Regions from separate parts of the Homo sapiens genome. Here region 2 is linked to region 1. A link means that fine-mapping ties the variant in region 1 to the expression of a gene that starts in the linked region. Tissue or cell type: fibroblasts. Region 1 holds a variant in brackets; the other region holds the start of a gene. All regions are shown on one strand. Distances are between the middles of the regions.

What was found. PIP is the estimated chance that this variant, and not a neighbour inherited with it, causes the effect.
Region 2: it holds the start of ZFP91, and the variant in region 1 is fine-mapped to the expression of ZFP91 in fibroblasts (GTEx, PIP 0.91).

The regions. Positions count from the first base shown.
Region 1 is chr11:58,150,725-58,153,491 of GRCh38, reverse strand. All of the region lies in intron 2 of OR9Q1 (olfactory receptor family 9 subfamily Q member 1), which reads right to left. Among named protein-coding and RNA genes, the nearest start is that of OR9I1, 27 kb to the right of the region's middle. The variant T/C (reference allele first, on the strand shown) is at 1,508.
Region 2 is chr11:58,577,886-58,580,518 of GRCh38, reverse strand. It overlaps ZFP91 (ZFP91 zinc finger protein, atypical E3 ubiquitin ligase), which reads right to left and starts at 1,456. Exons shown (of 11, transcript NM_053023.5): 1 at 897-1,456. The coding sequence starts at 1,237. It overlaps ZFP91-CNTF (ZFP91-CNTF readthrough (NMD candidate)), which reads right to left and starts at 1,405. Exons shown (of 13, transcript NR_024091.1): 1 at 897-1,405. It also overlaps a transcript of LPXN not described here. RefSeq lists enhancers at 387-1,078, 1,823-2,052, 1,772-2,464, 2,083-2,602, 2,623-2,633 and a silencer at 983-1,402.

The sequences.
Region 1 (2,767 bases):
CCCACCCTTCCCTATTGAATTATCCTGAGTCCATATCACTCATTTGCTTGGCTCCTGATGTTTGAATCTTCCACAACAGTCCCCAAGAAACCATGTATCTACAATTGAGCACTCCCGGGGAAAGGGAACTCACCAACTCCAAAGACAACCCATCCCCTCTTTGAACAGTTTCTTCCAGAGCTCTTTCTTAAACTCTAAAAGCCAAGGCATCCATCTCCTTAACACTAAACAAAAGAAGAGATTTCTTCACTGAATTTTTTCCAAAGTAAGCATCCCCAGTGCCTCCTCTAATTTGGTTTCTGTTTCCTTCACCACCTTGGTTTTCATTTTCTGGGCATGCTTTATTCTATTTCTATTTCTTTTAGAGGATAAAATCCAGAAATAAAGGTTTCTTCCTGCTAGATTCAGCTCATCCCTCTATCTTCTAGAATGTTATCATGTACTAATTGAAGAAGAGCTTACTAAGTGCCTACCAGGTGGCAGGCTCTGTGCCAGGCACCAGCATCACTTTGGCAAGCAGCACAAGCTAAGTGCCCGCCCTCCTGGAGCTCGGATTCCAGAGGGAGACATGTTGCCCAGCAATCTCTCAGAGAGATGGAAACTTGCACTGTCATGCGTGCAAAATAAATTCAAGATTGATTCAAGATGTGAGACATAAAAAATGAAATTGTAGCAAATCTAAAAAAAAGGTAAATAATTTGATTATCTTGGAGACAAGGCCTTTCTAATATCAATAGAAAACCTAGAAGCTATAAAAGAAAAAAATGAATAAATCTAACTACATCAAATTTTAACATTTTTGGAGCCTAAAAGCATCATAAATGAACTCAAAAGGCAAATCTGTGAAAATATTTGCAATACAAATGACAGACAAAGGACTGATTTTCCTAATGTACAAGTTACTGTTACAAATCAATCAACAAAGCACATAAAAAATTTACAAAAGAAATATAAATGATGCAAACAAATGAGATGATTCTGAAGTTCTTTAATAATCAAAGAAATACAAACTAAAATAATGAGGTAATTTCCAAGTAAATATTGGCCATGAAATTTTAAAACAAATGCTCCCAAGTGCTGTCAGATCATAGGGTATCCAGCATTTTCATTCACTGCAAATTGAAACAGCCCTTCTGGAGAGAATTCCATTATTAGCTTATTTTAAATGTCCTGAATTTCATAAATATATACTAATATTATCTGTGAATTATAAATAAAGCTTTAAAATAAAATAAATGTTCTGATTCTGCCATTTCATTAGTTTCTATTCTTTATCCTCTCATCCCACCTATCCCTGAGTCACATAATGGCTTCCAGAACTAGCTGCCACCAGCACCTCCCCGGGTCCTCATACCAATCCTCTTGTAATACCAGTTACAGATTGAGTAGAATCACTACTCCATCTGTAATTTCTGGAACTCAGGACCGCTGTTCTCCTGGCCTGAGAGGATTTCCCCATGGCCTGTCAGAGCTCCTGGGAAATGCAACAATGGTCTGGTTAACTCAA[T/C]AATCTCTATGTCAAGGTTCCTTATAAACATGCAATCTGAACTGTCTTGGAGTGTCTTTCTACCCCAATTCCCTTACCTACAGTAGATTGTTGTAACTGGAAAAGAAATTTAAGTACCCAGAGCAACTGGAGAGACTGAGTAACTTCAGAACCAAGGCAGTTATTATTAAGCCTGGGGTAATTCTGTGTGCAAGGTTAAAAAAAAAAATGGTCTGGGGGCCGAAAACTAAGACATAAATTCCTAAATTCACTGGCTATATCATCTAGAAATGTCTTTTCTCAGTAAGGACTGGTTGTGTACACATACTTGTAATGAGCTAATACCTACTAGACCTATGTTTACCCAGCATTTTTAGTTCACATTCATCCAACGCTTGCACTCTAACATCTGTACAGCCCCACAAGCTTTCAACAGAGGAGTTTTACTTTATGTTGTTTGTATTATGAAACAAGAGTCATACTGAAGACAGTTTTTCAAACTGTCATTCCGTCTTCTGCAGATTTGGATTTGCCTTCCCTGAGGAACATCCCCTTCCCCAAGTAAACTATGAAAGCAAATGATGCAACACCACCTTCTCAAAAGCAACATTAAGACACAGTTGCTACTTAGCTGTGGTACCTGGGGCAGGGTACCTGGAATTATTTAACCATCCCAGGCTTCATTTGCCCCACTGGTAAAAAGGAACCAATAATAGATGAGAAAGAAGGCTGGGCCTGAAAATGAGTATGAGAGCTCTTTTCTCTTAATCCTGAGACTTTTTATATGACATCTCCTCTCATTGTATTAAGGATCTCAGTAAAAGTTAGTTGAGTGCCTTTTCAACAAACGATGCTAGGGAAACTGGATAACCCACGCAAAAGAATAAAGTTGGGTCCTTAACTTGCATGTGGCATACCCATACAAAAATGAACTAAAAATGGATAAAATACCTAAACATAAAGGCTAAAATGACAAAACTCTTAGAACAAAACACAGAGGAAAAGCTTCATGACATTGGATGTGGCAATGATTTTTTAGGTATCATACCAAAAGCACATTTTGTCTTACTAGAAGGTCTTCAGGGGCAATAACATACACGGAGCTATCATCTCCCACGATGATGATGCCTTCTTCTGGAATACCTCCTGAAGGACCTGCCTGGGGCTGTTTTAGAGTTAACTTGCTTTCTGTGAGTAGAAGGAATACACTCTAAAATAACAACACATTTGTATATTAACTACGTAAACTAGTAACATAGTCTTTTATTATAATTATCAAGT
Region 2 (2,633 bases), 430 kb before region 1:
AATCAAAGGTCACTAATGATGTTTTCAGTCATGAATTGAATAGTCAATGTGATTAATTTCTAGAATTTACAAACTTGTGTGCTTCAGTATTCTTAACATGAGTATTATTTTAACGAACAATTTAAGACAATGCTCCTGGCCACCTGTTCATGTTTCCTCTATTACGTCTAGGTAATAAAGGAATTCCTCTCAGATGATTCTAATTTCAAGGATGAAGTTCCTACATTTAAAAACACGAAACACAAAGATAAAACATATGCTACTTAGTAAAAACAAACATTAAAGAATGCTCATATAATTTTATATGAAAGACTCCATACTTAAAATCGTAGCAGTGGGCTTTTAACCTGACCATAATAAGTGGCAAATTTCTCAAAAGAATGAGAAGGGTTGCGAAAAATTTAGAAAAGTGAAAAAAAAAAAAAGCTACATAAACACACTAGTACATCTGGCTCTTGAGCTAACGCGAAGGCGGGGGGGAATCATTTTTGAAGGCTATGATCGGGCTGTGTATTCCCTAAAGGGCATGTGATGTAATACTGGAGAGCCGCCTAAAGGAAAGGGATAGGGTGACAAAGGGGGTGCGGATGCCAGAAAGAGGGATGAGCCTGCGGGTGTCAGGGAGGAGGTGGATCACTAGCGAGTGCAGGGGTGTATCAAAAGATGATTTCGGGGAGTGGGGAAACGGCCCGACAAGCGAAGGTACAGGAGCGAGATGAGGGTGGCGCAGAGAGGAGGCACGAAGGCTCCCGGGGAAACGGTGTGACATCTGGCGTGCGGAGCCGGCAGGGGGCAGACCAGGCAGGATGTCACGTGGAGTAGGCGCTACGGGAGCCGAGAGGGTTGCGTACGGACAGAGGGGGGTCTTTCCCACCGCCTGAAAGACTGTTACTCACAGGAGTCGCGGACTCTTCTTGCCCTGAACTGGAGACGGGGACTTCGCGGCCTGGGGCTGCTGCCCGGGGACGTCGGGAGGCCTGGCGCTGGGGCTGCTCCTCCGCCGGCGGGGATACTCGGCCTTCCTCCGGCGGGACACAGCTGCGGCGGCGGCGGCCGCAGCGGCCCGGCCTCGGTCCCGACCTCCCCTCAGCACGCGGCTGCTAGTGGTCCCTGCAGGCGCCGCCGCGACCGCCTCAGGGGGCCGTTGTTGGGGCTCCTCCGGAGCCGCCTTGGCCGCCTCTCCCCCTTCCTGGTCCTGCTGCTCCGGGGGTCTCGGCTCTTCCGTCTCCCCCGGCATCGGGGCTTGTCCGTCCCCCACCCCCTAGTCCTAGGCGGCGGAGGCGGAGGCGGCGGCCTCGGCGCTGCTCCCCCCGCCCCCTCGCCTCCCGAAGCCTGCGGCTCACTCTCACCCTGCGCTCCTCTTTCCCCCCTCCCCTCCGCCCGGCTCCGAGGGCGCCCCCCCCACCCCCTGCCACTCAAGGTCCGCTACCGCTGGCGGCGCGCGCGCGCGCGCCACAGACGCTCAGCGGGCCAATCGGAAAAGAGGACAAGCCTCCTCACCCCGCCCCTCGCAGTCTTACACGCAGCGGCGCCCCAGGTTCCCTCCCCCACCCCTTCCTTCAGCCAATCAGGAAACGGCTAAAAGGGGAGCGCGCGAGGTTTCCTTCCCCGCGCACCCGTTCTCACCGTTAAACGGCTGTGTCTCGCGACAATCCCAAAGTGACCTTTTTCCCCCCTCCAGACTTCAACGCGCGCTAGGGGCAGTGCGAGGGGCAGGTCTCGCGAGGGAGGCGGGTGAGAAGAAATCGCACCTCTTTCCCCGCCTCACGCAAACCCTAGACTGGCTGCGCGCGCACCTGCCTCCCTGAGGAGCCACTGATACCACAAGGGCTCTTTCTATTCTTCTTTAGGCCGCAGAAGTAGCCTGGGCGTTCTTCCGCCTCCACCCTACCCCACTTTCCTGTCTTTGGCCTTTCTGTCCCCAGCGCCGCCAGATCTTGCGCGGAGAAGGGGGTAGTATTTTGAGCTGTCGCTTCTCCTTTAAGAAAAAAAGCCCCGTCGGTTGCCGGATGAAAGTCTCTGAAAAAATGGCGGCGGCAAAACGGAGGCGGGGTTGTGGGGGCAACGAGGGCCCGCCTCTTGGCGCATGCGCACCGTTAACTTAACCAAGGGCATTCTGGGAGATGAAGTCTTATTTCGCCTAGGCTTTAGGAAAAATAGATGGGAAACCAGAGGTGGAGAGGATGCCGGGAGGTTCTAACTGAGTCACGACGGGAAAGGTAGTTTACTTTCCGCAGTCTAGAGTTTACCTTTTTTTCGGGAGGCAGTGTTTCCGGGTTAGGTCGCGACGCGTGCCGTACATCCGGGCTCAAGCGTCGAGCCAATTGCTGGTCTGATGGGAGGGTTTTTCCTACTTTTTCTTACTTTTTATCTGGGCGTTGGCGTACCTTTCTCGGGGTGTCTGCGTAACTGCCCAGACTTGCCTTGGTTTGGTCAGATGACACCTCCTCTGGGACTGGCTAGCCAGCGTTCATGTCTACATTATTGATCTCGTCTTCCGGTGTGTGAGTCACTCACCTGTGAGCTCCTAGAGGTCAGCGACTAAATCTGGTTCCATGGGGTCCTTGGGCCCTCGGAGCCCTAGCACAAGGCCCACTACTCAGTTGGCTCTTAATCAAATCTGTGAAACGAAT